Linked DNA regions of Homo sapiens: regions 2, 3, 4, 5 and 6 are each reported to be linked to region 1. The links are microRNA targets in miRTarBase. Many come from high-throughput screens and were not tested one by one. Region 1 holds a microRNA gene; each other region holds the end of a gene's coding sequence.

Region 1 (4,086 bases):
AGAAGATTCCAAGAACGTTTCGGTGCCAAATCAGGAAACACGCAGGCACACCTGGACAGGTGGGTCGGCCTCATGCAGGGATGCTTTGCCCTGCCCCGGCGTGGCCCTCCAGCAGCACAGTCGGCACGTCTCAGCACCACAGTGCCCCAGTTCCACCCAGAAGTTGCATCTGCCTCTGTTCACACTCCCCTGTGTAGAGGTGGCATGTGTCTCCACCAGCAGCCCAGGAGCCCCACGTGCCCAGCTTCCCTTCAGGAATTCCATGGCTGAAGGAATGGACCCCGAGGAGCCATCCTCCACCTGGGTCAGGGGCAGAGGCTGGAGAGGCCGGAGTGGAGGGGCTGGGGTGCCAGGAAGCACAGGTCTAGTCTCAGCAAAGTAGGGGCCTGTCCTCCTGGTGTCCCCAGGGACCAAGTAGGGGCCTGTTGTAAGACCACACCTCATTGCCACCTGAGGCCTTCCATTGGTCCTCCGAGGCCCTGGCTGAAATTCGGCCTCTTCAAGGATCCCCCACTGGCCCTCCCACCACATCAGCTCCAGTGACAGCTTGAGCTCTGCCCTGCTGAGCACTCAGGAAGTGTGCTGCATCATGTCAGGGGAACCTCCAGCGAGCTCCACGTCATCCTACAGAAGGAAGAAACAGGTCCTCCGAGGGGATAAGGGACTTGCCAAGGTCACTTGCTTGTAGGCATAGAGCTGGGGTTTGAATGCACGACAGACTCTCGGTCCCCTGTGCCAGAGGCAGGGAGGGTGGAGGAAGGTGCCTCTGTCTCTTCAATCCCTCAACCCTCCCACCTTGCCCATTCTCCTGGCCAGGTCCCCAGGGCCAGCCTACAGGCTCCAGCGGGAATGAGTGGGAGCCAGCCAAGGGAGCAGTGTTGTGGTGAGTGGGGGGAGTGGGAGCAGGCTGGAGCCCCTGAAAGTGGGGCCCCTGGGAGCCAAGCCCTTTCCCCAGCCTGGCTCCTTGAGGCAGTGCAGCTCAAACCCGAGGGAGGGGGTCTGGCCCAGTGGCCCAGGGGAGGTCACTGCAACGAGAAAGCTGGTGGCAGAGGCTGGGGGCTTCCCTGGAGACCAAAGTGCCAGAGGCAGAGTTGAGGGAGGGTCTTGGGTAAGGACCAGGCCACTGCCCCTCCACCAACCATCCTCATTTCTGCTTCTCTGAGATTAGAAGGAAAAGGCTGGCTTGCTTTCAAGGGAGAAACCACGCTGAGGCCTGGGGGAAAAGGACAAGCACCCCAGGGACACAGCGATGCTTTGGAACATGTTTATTGTCATCAGTCTAAATTGTACAGACGCACACCGGACAGAATGCCTCCAAGCCGCAGAACAGGGACACAGCCGCCATCTCCCACCTGAGCCTCAGCCCCTCTCACGGGGCTGCTGAGGGCTGAGGGCCCATGCAGAGGGCACGGGGGAACGTGCTTGTAAAATGAAATGGCTACAGGGGGCTGCGGTGGTCAGCAGGCAGCAGCTGGGGAAGACACTCCAACCCCTCCGATGCCACAGACCCACTGGGCGCTCCCACGGCCCCAAGCTCTGAAGCCAGATCCTGAGAGGTGGCCACAATGGCATTTGCTGAGCAACAGAGGAGGCACTGGCCAGTGGTGGATGCTCTCCCGGGAACTCCACTCCCCCCACCTGGGTGGCCAGGGGACCTTGCTGTCCTGCTGCTGGCCCTCTTCTGGAACAGCCCTCCACAGTCACCTCCTGTCTCCTCACATCAACCCCCTATGTGTGCAGGTCGGGCTCAGAGAGGGCAGGTGACTGGCCCAAGGCCACCCTAGCAGGCCTCAAACCCAGGCCTGTCTGACCCATCTCCCAGGACTCCCCGCAGCTCTCTAAACACTGGGTGAGGAGGTGGGGACTGGAGGGGGACCCTCCACCCCAGAGGACACAGCAGGCCAGGCAGCACCAGGCAGAAGACCCCGGCCCCTGGCTGGAGGTGGGGACAGATTCGACCCTTTGCTGAGTCCCTCCCAGGGCCGCCCGGGGCTTCACACGCAGATTGACGCGCACACCTCTCCTGTGGGCGCTAGCTACCACGAGGTTCCAGGGAGGCTCCGGCGAAGGCACCTGTCATCATGGGCGCCGCTTCTCCTCTACCTGGGTGTAGTCTGCAAACTTCCTCCCCACCCCCAGTTCCTGTGCCTCGAGGTCCTTCACGAGTTTAGCGCGCACTCGTAGGAGCCGCGCAGCGCTCCCTAAGGCCTCAGTGAGTGGAGACGCTCCGGGGAGCCGGCAGCGGGAACCATCGGCCGCCCAGCAGGGTGCGGCTGCCGGCAGCCTGATGGGCAGCTCCCAGGAAGCCCAGGGCAAGGAGCGCTCCTCAACCCTACGGGCCCACCGCCAGTTCCTCGCTGGGAATTCCACGGAGTTTCGAGGTGCGGGCCCTCGGGGTGCAAGAGGGCGGCGGCGGCGTCTCCAGGCCGGCAGCGCGCCAGGAGCGTGGGCAACCCAGCGCGCCCCCACCCAGCGGTTCCCACAGCACAGCCCGGCCACGCCCGGCCACCTCCCAGCAGCACTTGGCTCTCCGGCCGAGGGTCTTCCCTGGCAGCAGGTGGAGCCAGCCAGGCCCTGGGGACTGCGGGGCGCGGCGCATGGGGCGGCCGACCTGGAGCGCGGAGCCGGTCCGTGGGCTCCCCTGGATTGGTCGCCGGCGCACCCCTGACTGTGACTCTGACTCCAGGCCGCGCGTGGGACGCTCCGTCGCTGTCGCCGCGCCCGCCGGGTCTAGTGGTCCTAAACATTTCACAATTGCGCTACAGAACTGTTGAACTGTTAAGAACCACTGGACCCAGCGCGCGAGTCCCCAACACCGTCGGTTCGCCGAGCTGCGGAGAGAGGAGCCCCCGACGCCCTTGGGACCGCCCGCGTCGCCTGCGGATCCCGGGGACCGGCCCCTGCGCCCAGATCCCCGCTGGTCGCGCACCCCCTGCCCTGCTGCAGCCACCCGGCCCCGACGCCGTACCGGACGCCTTAGACGCCCTCGCCTGGCGCTGGGGGATCCCAGCCGCCAAGCCCAGCCCCGCCGCGTCCTCGCTGGCCCCGGCGTCCCCTCGTCCCGCGGGCCCCGCGTGGCAGGGCGGCTGAGCTCCGAGCGGCGGTGGCCAGCGCGGCGGCGCCTTTTATGCGGCGCAGCCGCCCTTCCCGGCGCCGGAATGTGCCCGCGCCGCGCTGGCCCGACCGGTTTTTCCGGGCGGGGCGGCTCCCGGGCCCATAGGTCCCGCGACTGATCCTCCACGGCCCGGGGACCTGCTCCGCGCGCCCGCGCGGGGGTGGCCCTGACTCAGCGGCCGCCCCGCCCCATCCGGCGCCCCAGCCTCCAGCGCCTGGCCTGGGCGCACCTGGCCTCCCGGGTTCTGGGTCCCCGCCGGGCCACGCCCGAACCGTCTCGTCTGGGCCGGGGGTGCTCGGGCGCACGGAGGGCCCGGGGCTCCACCTTGGCCGGGTCGAGGCCCAGGGTGGCCGGAACAGGTGAGGACCAGCGCCCGACAGGAGCCCAGGGCCGCGCTAGCTCTCCGGTGGGTGTGGGGGCTGGGCTGGACACACCCACCCCAGCCCCTCTCACTTCAAAGGGAACTTCGTGGGAGGGGGAAGGGGAGGGGTAAAGAGAAAGTGAAACTGGAGGGAGGGAGGTTTCTGCTTCTCAGACCCTGAACCCCCACCCCGCAGCCCACAGGGGTAGCCCCGTACCTGCCTCCTCATTTCCCACGCGGGGGGAGGGACGCCCTACCCCCTCACGCAGCAAGGGCCTGAGCCTCGCTCCCCCCACTCACAGCCCAGCCCCGAACGTCCTGGCGCAGCTGGCCCTGCCGGTCCTACCCACTTAGTCACCTGGAGGTGTCCAGGCCTGACCAGTGGCGCCTCCCAGGGACTCTGCTTCAGCAGAACATGGCAGCTGAGGGGAGGGCTCAGGCTCTAGGAAATACCCTAGAGCCCCCTTCAGCACTTGCCCCAAGTCTGGAGCCATTAGTGTGTCTGTATGGGGTTGGGCAGCAGGGTGGTGACCATTCATTCCAGTGCAGGGCGGTGACACGCCATCCCACCACCCGCCCAGCCAGCCAGGAGCCAAGTGCTCAGGAGCCA
Region 2 (4,086 bases), not on the chromosome of region 1:
TCACGCTTGTAATTCCGGCACTTTGGGAAGCCAAGACAGGCAGATTGCTCCAGTCCAGGAGTTCAAGACCAGCCTAGGCAATATAGTGAGACCCTGCCTCTACAAAAAATAAAAAAATTAGCCAGGCATGGTGGCATGTGCCTGTAGTCCCAGCTACTAGGGAGGCTGAAGCAGGAAGATTGTTTGAGCCCAGGAGGTGGAGTTTGCAGTAAGCCGATATCGCGCCACTGCACTCCAACTTCGGCGCTAGAGCGAGACCATGACTTAAAAAAAAAAAAAAAAAAAGATACACAAGAAACTAACAACAGTTCTTTTGGGAACAAGGGTGGAAACTGGGGAGATGGACAGGTATAGGAGGGAGACTTCCCTGAATGCCTTTTTGTACCTTTGAATCTTTAAATCATGTTAGATATTATTGATTTAAAAAAAATTGTTTTTCAAAAAAAGGAAAAATTGCTTAAACAAAGCACATACAAAGTCTCCTTCAGATGCAGAGCTGTATAAAAATACTCTCAGAGAATTACTGTAATCAACGTCAAATACACAAAAACTGATGATGCTGTTTTCTTACTTAGGCACTAAAAGAAGAAATCAAAGAGATGCATGGATTGCGGATATTTACCTCTGTCCCCAAACGCTGACCACGCCCTGGCTGCATAGATGCTGCTGCTTAAGACCTTGGATGAACTTCACTGACATCATTCTTCCCTAAGCAGTCACCAAAAAATTTATATATTTTGCTCATATACATTTCCATATTATAATTATAGAAGATGTATAATCTATTTAGATGTTAATTAAAGGAAACAAACAACTGAAGCTTTTGAAGGGTCATTAGTAATGTTTCAGGTTCCTTTATTTTGGCCAAAGGGGTCTTGTCTTTAGACAGTTCTGTCCTGCTACAGAGAGAGAATGCAGTGCCAGCTTTTTGTCTTTTGAAGAGGTTTTCCTGTTTCTTCCCCTCCACGAAACTGCTCAGGCCTCTTCATCTTACTGAAACAAAGAAAAGATCCTTTACTATTGCTGTTCTTTTCGTTTATCATTCTTTTCTTCCCCCTCTAAACTTCTTACATGAATGATCTTGGACCCTCAATTTCTTATGCTCTGAAATGGACTCTGAAAATTTGGGGGTGCCAGGATCCGGGTTCTTTTCCTGTGTTTGAAGATCCTCCACCCTTTGATTCTTGGTAGGAGGCAGAGCCCACCTCCCACGACAGAAGCTGAAAAGGCTTACTTTCCCTGCCTCCCTCACAGCTGAGGCACAGGCAGATATTCCAGACTCAGCCAATCAGATGGACCTGCCCTGAACTTGGGAGCAAGTCACACCGAGGAGCAGGGACAGTGGGACATCCATTCCTGCTGCAGCCATGGCTACAACATCTGGTGTTCTGGATGGTGGTAGTGGCAGCTGATTGAGTACTATAAGCTGCTCTCTCTGGAGTCCATGGTGGTGGTCACGGTGTCTGGGTCTGCAGTGTGATTTGGGCTCCAGCCACGGAGGCTTCCTTGTCCCTGTTTTCAGCAGCTGGCTCGCCAGTTTTCTCAGACATCTTGTGACTGCCCCCACAGACTTTCACTAAATTATTTTCTGCTCCCATCAGCCAGCACCCATGTTACCATGGCAGTGGGAGGTTGACCATCCACTCCTCTCTCACACTCCTTTGCCTTTCATGGAACCGACCACCAGAGAAGTTAGGGGTCACTATTGGTTCTGAAGGTACCTCCCTAAGAAATGAGGACATGAAGATATAACAACCTTGGGCCCCAGATTTTTGAGGGCAGAAAAAAATTTCAAATATTCTGTTCATACATTGTGCCCCCGTTTTGTAATTTTAAAATATTCTCTATCTGCACAGTGGGGTTGGGAAGGATTGGTACCTGCCAGGGCAGAACTGCCTCTTACAAGCAGTAGAATCACTCAGTTGTATCAGAGCTGAGAAGGTTGGGACAAAACAGAGAACTGTGCCTGAAGGCCCGAGCCACCTCTGAAACAGCTAGACACCCCAGGGACGGCTTTCAGGTGATACGGTGAGGAAACACCCAAGCTTGGAATCCCAGAGGCCAGCAGGACGGCAGTGGTCAGTGAGAATGGAGAGACCTCAAAATTAGACACACTGATTCCCTGCGTGGAACCTATTTGTCTTTCTCTTAAGAGTGGGCTCAATATGGTGATCTTCTAAAGAACAGAATAGGCCAGGCGTGGTGGCTCACACCTGTAATCCTGGCACTTTGAGAGGCCGAGGGGGGGGGATCACAAGGTCAGGAGTTTGAGACCAGCCTGACCAACATGGTGAAACCCCGTCTCTACTGAAAATACAAAAATTAGCCAGGCATGATGGCACGCGCCTGTAATCCCAGCTACTCAGGAGGCTGAGGCAGGAGAATCGCTTGAACCCGGGAGGCAGAAGTTGCAGTGAACCAAGATTGTGCCACTGCACTCCAGCCTGGGAGACAGAGCAAGACTCCGTCTCAAAAAAACAAACAAAAAAACAGAATAAAGTGAAAGTGACCTGCAGTTTCAGAGAATACATCATGTAGGGCACAGTGGCTTTCTCCTTGCTCTCTCCCTTGGATTGTTTGCTCTGAGGGAAGGCAGCCATGTTGTGAGGACACACAAGCAGCCTACAGAGAGGTCCATGTGGTGAGAAACTGAGGCCTTTTACCAACAGCCAGTCAAACAGACCTGCCAACAGTCAGCACAGAATGAGGCCTTCTGCCAGGACAAGAGCCATGTGGGTGAGCCACCTTGGAAGTGGATCCTTCAGCCACAGTCAAGCCATCAGAAGATTGCAGCCCCAGCTGGCATCCTGACTGCAGGTTGAGCCACAGCCACTCAGCTGAGCCACTCCCCAATTTCTGACCAAGAGAAACTGTGAAATACATATATGTGTTTGTTGTTTTAAGCCAGTGTTTGGGGTTACATTTTTATGCAGCAATTGATAATTAATATGTTTGTTCATTACTGAAGGAACACGGGGGACTCTCACTTATTGACAGACGGGTTGAAGAGCCAAACTTCGGGCTGGGCACGGTGGCTCACGCGCGTAATCCCAGCACTTTGGGAGGCTGAGGTGGGTGGATCACTTGAGGTCAGGAGTTCAAGACCAGCCTGGCCAACATGGTGAAACCTTGTCTCAACTAAAAAAAAAAAAAAAAAAAAATACAAAAATTAGCCAGGCATAGTGGCACATGCCTGTAGTCCCAGCTACTCGGGAGGCTGAGGCAGGAGAATCTCTCGAACCTGGGAAGCAGAGGCTTCAGTGAGCCAAGATCACGCTACTGCACTCCAGCCTGGATGACAGAGCCAGACTCCGTATCAAAAAGAAAAAAAGAACAAAAAAAAAGAAAAGAAAAAGAGCCAAATTGCAGAAAGGACACGGGTCCAGCTAAGAGTCAGGAACACCAGTGCCACTGGGTCTCCCCTTCATCTGCTGTCCCTTCCTCTCTACAGATCAGCTTTATTATCTCTCACTCTAGATTGGCATCTGCCATACAGTGGTGACTTGAATGCCAGTACCTCTTAATTTATATATTTTAATGTCCAGTTCAGCCAGATGTGGTGGCTCACATCTGTAATCCCAACACTTTGGGAGGCAGAGATGGGAGAATTGCTTGAGCCAAGGAGTTTGTGACCAGCCTGGGCAACAAGTAAGACACTGTTTCTACAAAAAATTAAAAAAATGCCAGTTGTGGTGACATGCACCTGTAGCCCTAGCAACTCTGGAGGCTGAGGCAGCAGGATCACTTGAGCCCAGGAGTTTGAGGCTGCAGTAAGCTGTGATTGTGTCATTGCACTCAGCCTGGATGGCACACAGTGAGGTCCTGTTCAGGCCGTGGGAAGAGCAGACTTTGTTTTCAAGTCCCCAGGACGGCCTCTGTTTGGCTCATCTTGAATTAGGAGCCACCTGGCCTAACGCGTTGTAAGAGCAAACTTTCTTTTGGAGTTCCCAGGAAGGGCTCTGATTGGCTCATCTTGAATTAGGAGCCACCTGGACTAACCAGGTGGGGTCCAGGGGGCATATAAAATTGCAGCCTCTAGCTGGACTCTGGCTTGAAGTGGAGAGAGAAGGCGTTACCAAAAGAAGA
Region 3 (4,086 bases), not on the chromosome of region 1:
GTTCTGCCCCAAGAGTCCCTAGGATAATCTGCCACCCTTGGTTCTGCCCAAGCGCCCCTTCCTCCCTCCTTCCCTCCCGCGCTTCCCCGTATCTGCACCGTCGCCATTCCCACCGTCCACACCCTCACTTCCCACCCCGCTCACTAGGGAGGCGCGTTCCATCATCCTCCCCCAAACGGTCCCATCACCTCACCCCTCACCTCCTTTATCATTTCCACGATCTCCCCAGCTTGCAGCTTCAGCTCGTCCGCCTGCTCTGGGCTGTAGCTGAAGTTCACTTTGCACCATCTTTGGGGCCTCGGGTGTTTGGCAGGATGACCTAGCACCGGACAAGCGCGGCTGAGCTCCAGTCGGACGCCCCAGTCAGAGGAGCTGGGGGAAGCGCAAGGCGCGCACGTAGCCTTTGGTCCCTCCAGCCCCGCCCCAGGGCGGAGCATTGCACTCGAGAACCAATCACAGACCGCAGGGCGGCCCCGAGGTCCCGCCCAGAGCCGCGCCCGTCACTAAGAGCCGGAGACGCCGGGGTCGCACTGGCTCCGTGCACCCGCCCACCGGCGCCCGTCCCCGCCCTTGCGCTCACCTCGGCGGCGCGCACAGCGCGGCCTCCGCGCCTCTCCGGAGCCCCGCAGGGTCTCTGGGATCTCCTGGGAATCAGGGCACGGGGAAGGCGCTCTCAGCTCCCGGGGGGCGCGCGCTGAGACCCCACAGCCCGCCCCTGGCTCGGCCTCACCTGCACCAGGCGCTCGGGGAAGAGGCCATAGCGGCCCCCAAACTCTCCGCGAAGCCAGCCCCGCGCGGGCACCCAGCGCACCTGCCGGACCACGTCCCCGGGCGCCAGACTCAGCTCGTCCTCCTTCTGCGCGCGGTATCCGGCCAGGACGAGGACTTCTGCGGGCGGAAGACGGGGCCGGCGTGCGGCTCAGAAAGGCCCAGCCGGGCAGCCTGGCTAGGGCGGGCGTGTCCCCAAGCACCGTAGAGGGCAGCGGGGGTCGGGGGGTGGTGTGGGCTCTTGCTATGTCCACGGTTGCAGAGAGAGGCCACCTCAAAGCCTCCGCACTTACCCATGGTTTCCGGGGCGCCCTCCAGAGCCTGGCAGCTCCCTCTGACGGCCGAGTACTGGGCCCGCGCAGGGTGCGACCTGAGGCAAGACAGTAGGGTAAAGGAGGCGTAGCCGCCAGCCGATAGGTCGGGCCAGGTGCTGGGAGTGGGTGTGGAGAGGGGGCGGCCCGGCTCAGCAGGTCCGGCCCCCAACCCCGGGGTGAGGAGGACTCCAGGGTCTCTGGCCTGTGCAGCGGTCACAGCTCCGTCACAGGTTCTTCCGCCCACCTAAATTTTAGGCCAGCCGCCTCTCCCTTTCCCTCAGCTTTTGCCCGGAGGCTCCCAGCTACAATTTGCACAGAGCCTTTCCAGGCCCACCCTTCCCCAGCTCACAAGCTTTTGGCTTGAGGGGAAAAGGTGGGGAGAGGCACATACCAGGGTGGGGCCCCCCAGCAAGTAGCAACCGCTCTAAACCGGCCTTGAGTGAATGAAGTGGCTGCCCTTGTACCAGCAATAGCTTTGAGTGGACACTTCCAGTCTGCTTTCCTTCAAGGCGTACTCCTCTCTGGCCCCGTACCCACTCTCTACCCCCATATAGGAAGGACACAGCAAAGACCCCTGCTTTGGGGCCAGAGGTCTAGTTTGGTTTCAGAAAACACCTCCAGGTTTTCCCTGGGAGTTAGGCCGGGAGAATGAATTTTACCAGCTTCCAAGATTTCTGCTCACAGTTGAGTCCCCAGCCGGCAGGAGTCTGAAGGTTAGGGCCCACCCTATGGCCAGTCCATGTGGGATAGGCTCTTTCAGGTAGAAGGCTGAGCCTACTAACCACATCCCTTGATCCCTGCCCCACCACCATGATGAAGGAAGCCAAAGTCCTTGCCTATGACACCAGTGGAAAAAATCTGTTTCTCCTGGGGTGTCCAAGGTACACAATGCTCCTCCCAGGAAGGACTGTGTCTGTCTGGGACTCCAGCAGCCTGCGCAAGGCCCCACAGGCCCTTTGTCTTTCAGGTTTTCTGAAACTGCCGTGGGAAGTTATCTACCACCCTCAACACACACACACACTCAGGATGACAATGAACAGAACCCGTTTACATCTGCCACTTCATTTATTTTATTTGCAGGAGGAGTTGAAACAAATTTTAAGGGAGATTTTCATTTTCCCCCTAAACATGAATCATTCAAGTAAAACCAACTTAACTATAGAAATGTAGCAAAGTAAGGGGAAAGCAGCACAACAACGCAAGAGGCAAAGGCTGGGGGGGAGAGGTGGGTGCAGTCCGCATATAACATATGCATAAATGCCTTATGATTCACCTGCTCAGGACCGCCTCCCCAGAAGGCAAGCACAAGGACCCATTTTAAGAGGATGTTTCCCCCCAAACATCTGAGAATGCTTCAACTTAAACAGCTTAAGGTTAAAAAGACAAAGAAAAAAAAAAAGAAACCCAAAAAAACCCCTGAACCACCCAGCCATAACCACCTTCCTTAATCGATCATAGGAGTTTCTTTTCATTTTATAAAAAGATTAATAAAAAATATTGAAAAAATTTTCTCATATTTGTAAAGATAATAGAATTCATAAGTTTCTTAGAAAACAGACCAGACACTGCCCTCCAGTTTCCACCCCGTTGCTGGGAGGATCAGCAGGACTAGAAAGTTTGGGATACTGGAGCTGCTGGTGGAGAACGGGGAAGTCCAGCCCAGAAGAAATCAGGAAATAGGGCTCAGGGGCACGTGAGGTGTGGTAAGGAGCAACTCCACGTGATACATGGCTGCGCAGAAAAGGGGAACACAAGGTGGTCGGAAAGGCCTTAAACTCCTCCTTGACATACAAAACCGGTTTTTACAAAGATCCAAGCAGTTTGGTCCCAAACTGAGGTGAACACTTCAAAGTTTATTCACATGCTTTTGTTTTCTCTTTCAAGAATCAAAGTTTCCCAAATTAAATGTTTCTAATATTACTACATATGCCTAAAAAAAGAAAAAAAAAAAAAAAAAGGAGGGGGCTTTTAAAATCAGGACAGGGGAAAAGAGATCGAAAATCATCAAATTAGTCATCTTAGCTCCAAATGAAATGAAATTAGAACAAAACTGTTGGTTTCTAATAGGAAACAAAAATCCAAGCATCGCTCTCCCGCCCTACCCCTGCCCCCACCCCACACACCAACAAATGAGAAAAACAGCTAAAGCCCAATGCGTTGTATTCTGCTCAAAAGCTGGGCCTGACCCCTGGGCCCCATGGCCAGCCTCCTCTGTCCAGTGGGAGACAGCGCCAGGGATGCCTCTCGCGGTAGTACAATCTGTGCGGCTGGTGGGGGGTGGGGGTAGGATTTTCAGAATCTTCTTGAGGTTCCTCTGTTAAGCTCCTCACCAGCCATCTTCCCAGCGCCTCTCTCCCCTGGGCAGGAATCCCGTCAAGGGTGGCCCCTACTCGGTTGTGGGCTGTATATTGTCCTTCTCTTCTCGGTTCTCTGTCCCACTCTCGTCGTCTTCAATCTCCCCTTCCTCCCCACTGAACTTGTCATGGGCCCACTTGGGGCTGGTACTTGATTTCCGGAACATGAACCGGCCCCGACCCCGAGGAAAGGCTCCTCGGCCCCGGCCCCGGCTCACCCACTTGTCACTGCCTTCGCCTTCACGGTCATCATGCTGAGGGGAAAGAAAATTGCCATCAGTGCCAGAGTGAACAAGATGTGGCCAGAGCTCTCTTCTCTGCACGCACCCAAATGTGCCTTTCCCAAAAGAACCTGTGCCCTAACCCAGCCTTTTGATCCTTTTCTGCACTTCTCCCTGTCCCCCACTCCAAAAATGCCAGTGGTTCAGATCCATGAGAATATCAGTTGGGTGATTTAGGAATTTTAAGGTAACAGCTTGGGCATTGTAACGATGATTGACAATGATGATGATTCACTGAGCAAGAACCCTTAATAGTTTAAAGAAAATAAAAACGTCACTGAGCACTGAAGTAAGACATTTATGTACTATCTCATTTAATTCTCCTATCTACCCTATCATTATCACCTCCCACTCTGCAAACGTGCTTAA
Region 4 (4,086 bases), not on the chromosome of region 1:
GTGGCCTTCAACCATGAGGGCCACTTGGTGGTCACTGACTTCAACAACCACCGGCTCCTGGTTATTCACCCCGACTGCCAGTCGGCACGCTTTCTGGGCTCGGAGGGCACAGGCAATGGGCAGTTCCTGCGCCCACAAGGGGTAGCTGTGGACCAGGAAGGGCGCATCATTGTGGCGGATTCCAGGAACCATCGGGTACAGATGTTTGAATCCAACGGCAGCTTCCTGTGCAAGTTTGGTGCTCAAGGCAGCGGCTTTGGGCAGATGGACCGCCCTTCCGGCATCGCCATCACCCCCGACGGAATGATCGTTGTGGTGGACTTTGGCAACAATCGAATCCTCGTCTTCTAATTGCATTTCCTAGGTTTCTGTGTTTGGGGTGTGTGTGCGTGTCTCTCTCTCTCTCTCTCTCTTTCTCTTTCTCTCTCTTTTTGAATTTCAAAGAAGAAACAGTCTCAGGGAAATTTCTTTTTTCTTTTTTTTTTTTAAAGAGAACAAGAAAAGTACAACATTGCTTAAGTCCTACCTCATCTTTATTTTTTTACAGATGAATGTACTTATCTTTTCTGCAGGGATTGAGCCTGTGAAGTGATAATTTCTATCTACCTCATAAATCTTTACATTTCCTTCTGCAACAGGCCCTCTTCCCCTCCTCAGTGGAGTTTGCATTTCCCTCTTCCCCTGCGTGGGGCATGATATGCACAAGCCTGGCATCTGTATGGCTGGGAGGGCACTGGATGTGTGTGGTGGGGTGTATTCTGTAGATTGAGCCAAGGAAACACAAAAAAAAACTACTAAGTAAAAAAACAAAAAACTATAAAACATGGAAAAAATAGGATTTGAAATGCATAATTATAGAATACCTGTGTTCTTGAGAATACTGTTTATATGGGGTTTAGATTATGTTGTGTTGTTTTGATCTTTTTGGAAAATCTTCTCTTTTTAAATGCTGCAACAGAGAAATTTCCTCTGTTCTCTGTTTATACCTCAGTGTGTTTAACATCCTCTTCTGCATCGTTTCTTGATCTTAGACGTTGTGGCTGTGGCTTGCTAGCCAAGAAAAGCAGACCCTTCATATTTTAGGGTATATAATCTTTGTTTCTTTTAAGGGAGGGTGTGTGCATGTTTGTTTCAAAGCCATCTTGCACCCAAGTAGTAAAGCTGAAAATGACACACTGCCTCCCAAAGAACCTCTCCTTTTCACACTTTGGTTTCTTAAAAAAGTATATAGATGGTAGCTCAGGATTTTTGATTAAACATATTCTCAAAAGTTATGCTTTCTTATTTTGCTGTTAGGTTATAAAGGGTTAAATGGAAGGAAAAAGGAAATTAACCTCGTTCTCAGAGAGAGGGTTTTCAGGCATGGGCTGACGTGGACATGAATGTGGGTGGACATGCGTGTGCTGAGGGAGTCAGGGAGCACATTAAAGAACAAGGCACCCCCAAACTATAGGAACTCCACAGAAAGGGCAGGGTCTGCCCTGACCCGCGAGTGCATGTTGTTCTGTAGTGCTAGGGGTTTCTTTTCCTAAGAAGAGTAGGCAAAGGAAAGAACTTTTATTTTACAAGCACAATTTTTTCCTGCTTTGAAAGTTCAGGGAAATAGAAGGTTTGAAAGTCAAATTAATACCAACAGCCCAGTCCCACACCCTCTGCTTGGGTCACTTTTTATAGGATTGTTTGCACCCAGGCCATGCTTTAGGACCTCATGGTTAACATGAATCCCCCCGCCCCCTCTCCCCCCAAGGCCTTTGACCATAAAGGATCTAGAAACCAAATTGTCCCAACCTGAAATGTAGGATGTAATGTCTTTTCTTAAACCTGTAACTCGGTACCAAAGAATGAAAATTTAAGGCTCCCACTGCAGAACTGTGGGGTAGAATCTGTGTCACTTTACAGGATTGGTTGGTTGTAAGCTGGACTTGGGTACAAAACTTGTGCTTCTGGGCATTGTCTGTCTTTCAAGTGCAAAGCAGATGTAGCTGATACCCTGCTTGTCAGAACCCAGTGGGTTCCTGCAATGCCCCAAATACTGAAATAAGAACCAAATTCTGGAGGAGCCCTCCTCAGGGAAAAGAGGGACTCTCAAACAAACGTCAGTGACTTACAAGGGAGACCTCTTGTTTAAAGACTTATGGATCAACTTCTGTTCCTCTGTTTAAGAGAAATTTCTATTGCAAAATGGGTATCGTTTTAAATGAGCAGAACAGATTAACAAATGGAGCAATTTGTTTCTGTTATCCCAATAGAAAAGGAGATGATGGGGACAGTGTGACAAGTCAATCAAGTTGCTTTTCCCGTACACCTCTTTTGGACGTTTAATTTACTACTACTACAAGCTACTCTGTCTCTTCCCATTGCTTTAATTCTAGGGTTTCTGAGTGACCAAAATGGGAAGGAAAAAAAAAACCTCATCTCACAGAGGAGAACTGCATGCAATAAAAGATTCAAAAGTTGGAAAGTAGCTTCAAACTGCTGCTGGCTCCCAGCTGCTGTTACAGGGTGGGAAGGTGTTAGGAAATGTTGTTTGTTAGAAGCTCCTTTTACTGTAGAATTTAATAGTGAATCCTTCCCCAATGCCTATTCAGTTGCCTTTTGGCCGTTAAGCTCTAAGTTCTTTGGTAAAGAGTTAATATAATTAAACATTTTTACTGTTTTCTATTTTGGAGTAACTTGGTGCTGATCTTCCTTCCCTTTCCCCAGCTGCCCAACAAGCCACCCTTTAAACACCAAAGACAACTGGTTTTAAATGCTTGAAAAAAATTTTATTGAGGAGATGGATCTTGATTAAAATCTTTTCATCATCATTTTCATTCTGCTCTTTTCTTTCTAATTTCCCCAGATGTAGGAAAATTTTGGGACCTGAATGAGAAATGTTCTTGGTGCATAACAGTAACTAGAGCTCCTTATTTGACATTTTACTATGGATGTGATCGAAAAGCCAAGATTTTCGCTCCATGGCTGAAATTATCAGGTCTTAATTTACAGACTTGTAAATTTGCAGGCTTAGAGCAACTAGAACTATCCCCTGAAATAGGTGTGTAGGTCAGAGATACTACCTCTTTGTCCTCAGTGGTGGTATATCTATCTCCTTACCTTTCTGTACCCAAAATGGTGCATGACTGGTATTTGAGAAACATGGTCACATTTGGAAAGCTTTTGTTTTTAAAACATTGGCGGTTTTTCCTGCCCGTGGTTGACTCCTGACCCATAGGGATTGGTGCGAAGCACTTTGGAGAGTGTTTATTGTATGATGTGAAATGTTCTAAATCAAAGAAAGATGATAAAAGCCAACATTTGGCAGTCCCTAGTGTGAAACTGTGAAAAGTACCTGTGTTTAAATGCATAATCTCCTGCCCGGGTAATGCCAGGTAGCCAGGAGTTGGGTCAAAGAAGGGAGTCGTCATCCTGATGGAAAAAATAAGGTCCTGGGTATTATGAGGTAGGAGAATAAAAAGGTTTCTGGGGAGTAAGTATGACAATTACTAGTCCCCATGGAGGTCTGATCTGGTCAGGTGGCAAGGGTTGGGTGGGGTATGATGTAAGCTCAGTTTATGTGTGGAGATGCCCATTGGGTTTGGATATATAGGTTTGAGTATTGAGATGTTTAAAGGACATCTAACCCATAGGTAAAAACTACTTTTGCTTGACACTGACTTAACATTTCAAAAGTGTTATTTTTGGTCCCAAGATCTAATGCTGTCTCAGAACATGTGCCCTGTTGTGGCTGCAAGTGGCACTCAAGTTGACTAGAGCACAGTGACCTGGGTTGTACCCCAAGTGCACTAACTCCTCAATGCCCTTTTAAGTCTAACTTATTTGGGAAACACATAACAAAGGGTACCATAAACCGAATCCAAATTACGTGTTGGGCCAAAAATGTTGCCAGAACTGAGGCACTTTGTGATGGAGTTGCAAGAGATAGCTTGAGATCGGCTCAGTCTGATTTATTCTAGTTAAGCCAAAGCTTAATTATTTGAGGAGGAAAGTCTTTTAGGCTTGAAGCAGCAAAATACTGTTTATATATGTGTTACCTTCCTCGTTGGAAGATTCTACGATTGCTCTGTTCTGGTAGGTGGTGAAAGA
Region 5 (4,086 bases), not on the chromosome of region 1:
GGCTTTGACTCACTGGGTAACGTGGAATGGGCAGTGCCCTAGGCTGCAAGGCTTCTCCGACATCATCCCGGAACCAGCCTTTGCTTCCTTCCTCACATCGCAGAGCGCACCTGCAGTGCCCGTTCCGTTCCCTCCGACCTGTGCATCCTCCCCTTCCCTTCCTGGTCCCGCTGGCAGCCTGCCACCTGTGCCAGGACAAACAGCTGCACAGGGATGCCCTTTCCTGTTGCCATCCAGGGCAGAGCTCACCGTCTTCTCGGTACTCCTGCAGACACCAGCCACACATGTGCAGACGTGCATGGCTATTTGCTGACCTGTCTTCCCACCGTTCAGAAAACAAAAACCCGGGGAGCTCACTGCAAGAGTTGTTCCTGGGCTTCAATTCCTGGATCTGGCACCTGGCGCACAGTAGGTGCACAAGCAAATACCTGAGTGAATGAATGGATGTCTCCTCTTTGGGGATCACGTGGAAACCCCAGAAGTCAAGGCCCCAGTTTGGTCCCATCCAGCTGAAAACAGGTGTAAATAATGTAGGCTAAGCCCAGCGGAGAGAAAATCTGCAGCTTAGTTAGTCCTTTGCTTTGTTGAGCTAGATTCAGCTGAGTCAGGAAATCCTTCGTGATGGCAAGACGGGCTTGGGGCAAGCTGGGCCGCACAACTCACCCTCTCAACACAGACCTTGGATGTTGAAAGTGAATACAGTGCACTGTCCTCACAACGGGGAAAAGGAGGAGAACGGTATGCGGGATCCCCTGTACTAGCCTTACAACTTCCTGTGAATTTTCATTTCAAAATAAAAGGTTACAATGTACAGAGAGGATCTATGAAAGCCTTGGGGAGGCAGGTGTCAGCTCCATATGACAGCCTTTCTGACAAAGCTGTCTGAAAATGGAATGGGGTGCTTTAAAGACAGCCCTCACTCCCTAGAATCAGACAGCCGACCATAGCCACCCTCCCAAGCTGACAGTGTCCTTCAGCAGTGAGGGCCCAGCTCTGGAGCCAGATTGCCTGGGTTCAAATCCCAGCTCTAAAAGTTACTTATTCGACTATCCTGGACAAGTTATTTCATTTCTACAAGTCTTCATTTCTGCATTAAAAAATGGTAGCTAGGTCAGGCCCAGTGGCTCACGCCTATAATACCAACAAGTCGGACGCTGAAGCAGGATGATCACTTGAGCCCAGGAGTTTGAGACCAGCCTGGGCAACAAAGTGAGATTCCATCTAAACAAAAAAAAAAATTTTTCAATTAGCCGGGTGTGATGGCGTGCGCCTGTAGTCCCAGCTACTTGGGAGGCTAAAGTGGGAGGTTCACTTGAACGCAAGAATTTGAGGTTGCGGTGAGCTGTGGTCATTCCACTGCACTCCAGCCTGGGAGGGCAAGGCCTTGTCTCAAAAAAAAAGAAAAAGAAAAAAAAAGTAGATAAAACCACATGAGACTTTATTGGCAATTGTGAGTTACTCTTTCCACATGGCGACAGCCTGCAATGGGGGCTCCAGTTTGGCTTGCTGGTCTCTTCTGGGCAGCGGGCACTGCTGTCTCTACTTTCCAGGATGGCAGTTGGCCCGAGGGGCTCTAACCTGCCATTGGAACCTCACCCATAGCCCAGAAGCCTCATTCACAACCCTTCCCAGACTCCACTCCAACTTAGAGAACCTGAAAAATGGACATGTGGACATGTATCTGAAAGAAAGTCTAGGCGGTTGCACTTAGACAAGGGCCTACGGCTTTATTAACAGATGTCGAGGAAGCTTTCAGGTGCTGGTAGCCATGAGGGTCTGGTTTTAAGGATGGCCTTTAAGGAAAGGCCGTGGCAGGCGGGCTGAGAGGGGCGGCTCCAGCTCAGCCCTGCCCACAGCACAGGCTCACAGAAGCCGAGATCCACATCACCGCCTGGCATGCAAAGGAGTTGAAGACAAAACCATTTTTTTCCAGCTTCTCTACAAAGCCAATTACTAAGCAACAGTTATTAAAGTGAAGTATCCATTTACAGACTGACACAAATATCAAAAATAAGCAGCTTAGATGAGTACAGAGGCTGGAGTGCATTTTCTGCTAACAAAAACCACTGTGATATTCTCCCAGTTTAGAGGGAAAAGTCTATCTCAGGCCGACTCAGATGTGGCAGAAATAAGTGGGTCTGAAGTGCATTTTCAGTTGTTTCTGCCCGGAAGGAGCCCGGATGATACAAACAGGTCTGGGGTTCGTGGCTCTGGCAAGCGCCCAGAGACAACTGCGTCTCTGCCAGGACGCTCATCCTCACTGCGGCTGTCTGGGCAGATGGCTGTTGGCAGGCTAGGGACGACGATGAAAAACTGACAATATTTTAAAAACCCAGTAGGGTCCACAGCAGTGTTTGAAATGACAGGCTTTTTATTTCTCAGGAACAGCCGAGATGACCTCCAGAGGTTTCCAGCGAAGCTGTAACAATCCACCCTGCAGCTCTATGACAGGGAGGAGGGCGAATCAAATCCATCATCTTACGCCAGACTTCAGCCCTGCGGGAGCTGCTGCCTCCAAAGAAAGCGGGGACCTGGGCGGACTGCGTCTCTCCCCCGTGTGGAGAACGTGACAGATGTGAAGGTTGGGCTGACAGACACACGGCCTGCAGCAGCCCAGCCAGTCCCCCACAGCATCGAGCCAAGTCATTTAAAAAGGATTTAGGCCACTGCCTTTTTCTGAGGGAGGAGCGGCCAGCATGTGCCCCGCGGCTCACTGGGCCTGTCTAATCACACAGCAGTGGCAAAAGGAGTATCTGCCAGACGCTTCCTATCACTCTATTCTGTCTCCTCATCCACCTGAAGTTCACCCCGTTTCCCCAATGACTTAGAATGGCTTTGTGCTTAGTTTTAATTGTAGTTTGTGCTATTCTGTGAATTAACAATTCAAACAAAATAAGAAAGCCATGTTGTTAAACAGTAGAGGAGCCAGGGACTCTGTCTCCATTCTCTCATCACACACAAGTCATGCATCTACCAAAAAAAAAAAAACAAAAAAACACAACAACAAAAAAACTGTCCTCTGAGGAGGCACAGGTGTGACAGATAAGGAACCTGCAGCTCAGATTCAACAGGCACCTGCCAAGTCCACACTCAGGACTGTGACAGCCTCAACAACATGAGGTCCAGACACATTCACTGTGGAAGGCTCTGCCCACGCGAACAAAGCTGTCAGCTCTAGCAAAAGGGACACTGCCTTCTTCCTCCCTCACTTCTCACCTGGTAAGCCCGGGAATCAAAACAGCAAAAATGAGCCCCCAAAAAAGAGAGAGAGAGAGAGAAGCAGCCACTGTTACCAGCAGCACCCGCTGCACAGGCAGAAGCACCTCTGGTGCCACTTTCAAGACAAAACAAGAGCACAGTTGAAACATCTAATTTGAAAATGTTGATCTCCTTTCCTAAGACATTGCTAAGGGGCCCACAGGAAGGCTGGTGGCACCAGGGAATAAACCCTGGAAGTGGTGCAGCCACTCTGGGACCAGGCAGCTCCGGCCAGAGGCCTCAATCCATGGCAGCCAGCTGCTCGATGGCACGGCGCACTTTCTCCGCAGTTTCCTCAAATTCTTTCTTCTTATTGTTGGTTTCCTTTGCCTGGAAATAAAGAATAGACACATGACACTGAAACCAGAGCTTCCCAGTCACATCCTGTAGATAAGATGACAAAGGAAAAAACAATCAGGGAACACTGAGAGAGCACCTAAATAAACTGGGCACTGGGCTAGGCAGATTCCCAGCTACCTGGGACAAACATCCTGATTCAGCTCAACTCCCTCTAGTTTAAGCTGCCTCCTAATCATCGAATAACAGGAAACACTGACGGAGTGCTTGGTATGCACCCAGCACCACTCTACCTGCTTCCTCCATTAACTGATTTATGTTCACAGTGATCCTGCGCTGGGTGCTCCCATATCTCTACTATACAGGTGAGGAAACCGAGGTCCAGGCTGAAGGAGCCACTCAAAGTACCCAGCTAGTCTAGGCACCCCAGCTAGTCTGGGCACCCCAGCTAGTCTAGGCACCCCAGCTAGTCTAGGCAGAGCTCTGCTCTTAACCACTGCCCTACCTTTCTCCTGAAACTCCTGGAGGAAA
Region 6 (4,086 bases), not on the chromosome of region 1:
TGAGACTTTAATAGAACAATTTGCAGATTAGGTTATTATGGGAAAGCTGGGTCTGCTAGTAGTTTCACCTAGTTGACTTGGGTCCTCCATTTCTGGCCTGTGAGCTGGTGAAAGGACATTTATTCATACTTCTTGACACTCCTTTGAGGGACAATTCTAAGTTTCTTCTCTCCCTGACAAGTAATAGTGCAGAAATACTCCCCCTAACTCCAGGTAATTATGCTGTTCTATTCTGACTGGGACACCAAGTTGATCTGCATGAAGGAGTATCAGCAATTTGGCTTGCAGAGATTTCCACCTGATAAAATGCTGGTTCAGCTGGCTTTTACAAAATACTTATATTGTGAACCAAATTTTGAATTAAATGCACTTTGCTTTATGTCTAGATAACAGTCATGTAGGATGGGGGGATTTTCTGAATAAGAATGGCATCGGTTTTCATCTAGGCTAGGTATAAAAAGGCACAATATTCAGAAATAGTGTTTGATGGTGGTGAAATGTTTTCAACTACAAAATCAGATCTACAGTGGGAAACAAAAATCAGATCTAATGAAAAGAAACCATGTGGCTGGTATCCCAGGGAAGCTCCAGCATACTACTGCTGCCCTCTTTCTAGTCCGCAGGCCAAAGACAAAGAAATCTACTGCTCCAGGATTCTGCAAACATTCAATTTTATGATTTTATAATTGCTTTTAATCTACGGCAGGGTTTTTATATGTTTTAGGTATGATCACAATTGAAAAGGTTGCTTTTGACCCAAGGCTACTTCAATTATCTTCTAACAAAGTCGACCAATTCTGAAACGTGAAGAATGGAATAGGTGAAATTCATCAAAATGTTATGTCATCTTTTCTTTTCTTGGCCCATCTATAATATTATGTAAAGTAAGGTTAAAAAGAGAGAAAGGCATAGAGGCGGGAGAGAGCAAGATTCCCAATGAAATTCATACACTGTCCATGGAGGAGGCTCTCTGTTCCCTTTCTTTCCAAGTGGAACACGTGACTCAAATCAGGAAGGAAGTTTGGCAAATGGAAGATGAGAATACTTGAGCCTTCCATTCTTGAAGAACTCAGGCATGTGGTAATAAAACCCAAGCCAGACATGCAGATTTTCAAGAAGTCAAAGGATGTTCTAGCCTTTTAAAAATGTTAGCAGTTTTCAAAATCACCTGAACATCCAAGTAGGATCCACCCAGGAGAGATCTTTAATGGAGTGACCCTCACACTCTATAAAACTGACAGGGGCAACGAATTGAACCTGACTTAACAAAAACACATCCTGGTATTCATAAGTCTCTGTTAGGAAGTCCGTGGAGGTAGGTGGGAGCCGGAAGTTAGGGCTCAGCTGGAAAATAAATTAGGACTGGCCACAAAATGCAAACCATTTCTTCATTACCCATGAATAAATATTAGGAAATGGAAGTCCTAAGAATGACTCTTAAACTGAATCCTCACTGAAAATGTAACACAAGCAAATGATTCTCTTTACTTCCTTAAACTAATTCTCTTATATTACATTTAAAACAATTTGTTCAAAATTGCTGTACATACAAACAACTCTAGCAGAGACCCCTACAGTTATTGCTAAGGTGTGCAGGAAAAGCATATTAAGTAGTTTCCAACATATATCATTGTATTTTGTTAGTAAAAAGGTCAGTTCTATAAACACATCTAAAGTTGGAATGTCTGTTCAAGAAGGAAACATACACACACACACCCCCACACATGCCACAGGACCTCTCCAGAAGCTCCTTCCTGCAGCAACTTCTGTCTCAGGACGTGCCGAGCGGCATGATGGTCCACAGAAGCAACTCGGGCTGTCAGCCATGGGGCACCTGAACCCTTAGCAGTGCTGCCTGTAAGCATGTGTGCCAAGGTGGCTCAGAATGGACATCAGGCGGTCACAGAATGTTCCAAGGGTTCACCTGAGGACCAAGGTTATGTTTTCTTGATGCATGATGTCACTCTCAGGAACGGCTCTGGATGTGGGGGGCTGCAGGGGAGAAGGGAGGTGCCACACACCTGCAGACTGAAGAATACACCTTTGTCTCTGACATCACAGACTTGTTTATTCTCAAACATGGGCCTGTTAGAAAAAAAAAAACTGCAGGGATAGCATACAAAAATGAGCTTCTCATATAGATATCCATTAACAGTTTAACACAGCATCTCCTGTCCAGGGCACTGAGCGGGTTGAAAGGGCACCTCTCTTGCAGAGCCTGCCTTCTCTAGACATAGTTAAAAGTTATATCATGAAAATGTACAACATAGACAAAGAAAAGGAGATGATTATCTGCAGGTGTCAGCCTAGGTGGCCTTTGTTAATAAAGACTGCTATCTCTAAGCCAAGATATTTTGTGAAGGTCTTTTTTTATAAAGAACAAGTCCTCAGAAGCCTGATGACATGCTCACGTGACATGGTTATGCCCTGTTTGGCTTTATATGTGATAAAGGCAGCTTCTGATTTCCAAGAAGCAGGACTGCTTTGGCTGTCTTTGTGACTTCATTGCTAAGGACGATGTCAGGAGCAGTGCGGCTCTTTGAGAGTGCCTTCTGACCAGTGCATTTTCATATTCACTGTATCATAAATATTACAGTAAATGAGCTTTTTATATTGCAAACAGTTGTTTGAATGTTTTTTGTTTTTGTTTTTGTTTTTGGAGACAGTCTCGCTGTATCTCCCAGGCTGGAGTGCAGTGGTGCGATCTCAGCTCACTGCAACCTCCGCTTCCCAGATTCAAAAGATTCTCCTACCTCAGCCTTCCCAGTAGCTGGGATTACAGGCATGCGCCACCATGCCCAGCTAATTTTTGTATTATTAGTAGAGACTGGGCTTTGCCATATTGGCCACGCTTGTCTCGAACTCCTGACCTCAGGTGATCCACCTGCCTTGGCCTCCCAAAGTGCTGGGATTACAGGCATGAGCCACAGCACCCAGCCTTGCATAGCAGTTTCTTAGGTTACAGCATGTGGGCAAGATGTGATTTCTGCTCGGAGTTACTGAAGGCGTGCAGGCAGGAGGGAATCCGACTCCGGGACAAAGCCAGTGTGCAGCAGGATTTCTCCCTCCTTGCCTGAAAAGCAGTGGATTCTTGAGGATGCGTAAGTTGCTCTGCACTGAGGACCCTGATGAAGGTGACAGATGCATCTTCTTTCTCTCCACTTTGCTTGCAGGAAGAGGAACCTTGCAGGATGACATTTGCACTACCAGTTAGCATCTGTGTGGACACAGACGATGCCAGGGAACACCGTGGTCAGCCCCACGGCAGCTGTAGGTCCCCCAGTATTACAGAAGAGAGTAAGAGCTCAATTTCTAAGTGTGACCAGACACGTGCAGCATTGTGTCAACCCCGTCTTGACGGCATCCTTGAAAATCAAATGCAGAAGTGATCCTCTAACCTCATCACTCCTTAGGAACTGCAAAGCCCTGGATGCTGTGTTTGGACCTGCAGCAGGCACTTGCTCATCATCAGCAGGGGTGGCTTCAGCTGCTGCCTAATCACTCGCTTTAGAGCATGGTACCGGGTCCCACATCTGGGCCATCTCATAGTGGGTCACGGGTGTTTCTGTGTAGGATAAAGCTTTGTGTCATGACCGTCTCCTCCCTTCCACAAAGGCAGCTGGGTCTCCAAAGACTGAAGGTGATTCCAAGACCTTCTCTCCTTCATTGATCCCTAAAAGGAAGTTTTTATCACTGGGTCCAAGAAACTTTCCCTGGATTGAAGCACACAAGAAACAAAGACAGTTCTTCTCTTGACACCCAGCTCCATGGAAGCACAGCCTCCTGTTTTCATTTCCGGAAGGGGGTGAGCCTGTTGAAGGTGTGCCAGAAGAGCGAGGACTTCCTCTTGGGTTCCGCCAGGCCAAAGACCTGCTGCTGGGGGACGCTTGTGGGCATAGTGATGTGGCGCTGGTGGATGGGGTGCAGGCCCTGGTGCGGTGGGGCCACAGGGCACCTGTTGTAGCCTGACTCGGGAGGGGAGAGAGATGGAACAGGGACTGAGGGTCGCTTGTTAACCAGAAAGGAAAAAAATAAAAATGCTGAGACTCCAAGTCCAAGTTCTCAGCTAATTCTTTTTTTTTTTTT

The links. The annotated mature microRNA hsa-miR-203a-3p reads GUGAAAUGUUUAGGACCACUAG and lies in region 1 at 2,731-2,752, opposite strand. An mRNA with a match to its seed (bases 2 to 7 or 8) in the 3' UTR can be bound and repressed. Matches are read on the target gene's strand: a 7mer-m8 pairs with bases 2 to 8, a 7mer-A1 pairs with bases 2 to 7 and ends in A, and an 8mer does both.
Region 2: the mRNA of BOLA3 is a reported target of hsa-miR-203a-3p. The part of its 3' UTR that is shown has no 7-base or 8-base seed match.
Region 3: miRTarBase lists THRAP3 as a target of hsa-miR-203a-3p. Seed matches in the 3' UTR shown: 7mer-m8 at 3,112-3,118.
Region 4: miRTarBase lists TRIM71 as a target of hsa-miR-203a-3p. Seed matches in the 3' UTR shown: 7mer-A1 at 436-442 and 8mer at 3,662-3,669.
Region 5: the mRNA of BIRC5 is a reported target of hsa-miR-203a-3p. Seed matches in the 3' UTR shown: 8mer at 2,355-2,362.
Region 6: miRTarBase lists SPATA13 as a target of hsa-miR-203a-3p. Seed matches in the 3' UTR shown: 7mer-m8 at 494-500.

What each region holds. Positions count from the first base shown.
Region 1 is chr14:104,116,135-104,120,220 of GRCh38, reverse strand. MIR203A (microRNA 203a) reads right to left here and starts at 2,816; the gene lies at 2,707-2,816. MIR203B (microRNA 203b) reads left to right here and starts at 2,718; the gene lies at 2,718-2,803.
Region 2 is chr2:74,132,148-74,136,233 of GRCh38, reverse strand. It overlaps BOLA3 (bolA family member 3), which reads left to right. Exons shown (of 4, transcript NM_212552.3): 4 at 576-834. The coding sequence ends at 641. It also overlaps a transcript of TET3 not described here. Among named protein-coding and RNA genes, the nearest start is that of BOLA3, 14 kb to the left of the region's middle.
Region 3 is chr1:36,303,400-36,307,485 of GRCh38, reverse strand. THRAP3 (thyroid hormone receptor associated protein 3) reads right to left here. Exons shown (of 12, transcript NM_005119.4): 12 at 2,129-3,690. The coding sequence ends at 3,469. It overlaps SH3D21 (SH3 domain containing 21), which reads right to left and starts at 1,118. Exons shown (of 16, transcript NM_001162530.2): 1 at 1,062-1,118; 2 at 731-888; 3 at 581-644; 4 at 201-319. The coding sequence starts at 1,065. RefSeq lists enhancers at 218-267, 70-870 and silencers at 368-807, 1,028-1,077.
Region 4 is chr3:32,891,461-32,895,546 of GRCh38, forward strand. TRIM71 (tripartite motif containing 71) reads left to right here. Exons shown (of 4, transcript NM_001039111.3): 4 at 1-4,086. The coding sequence ends at 351. Among named protein-coding and RNA genes, the nearest start is that of CCR4, 58 kb to the right of the region's middle.
Region 5 is chr17:78,222,967-78,227,052 of GRCh38, reverse strand. It overlaps BIRC5 (baculoviral IAP repeat containing 5), which reads right to left. Exons shown (of 4, transcript NM_001168.3): 4 at 1,418-3,588. The coding sequence ends at 3,499. Among named protein-coding and RNA genes, the nearest start is that of TMEM235, 6.6 kb to the left of the region's middle.
Region 6 is chr13:24,302,477-24,306,562 of GRCh38, reverse strand. It overlaps SPATA13 (spermatogenesis associated 13), which reads right to left. Exons shown (of 13, transcript NM_001166271.3): 13 at 1-3,965. The coding sequence ends at 3,790. Among named protein-coding and RNA genes, the nearest start is that of C1QTNF9, 5.1 kb to the left of the region's middle.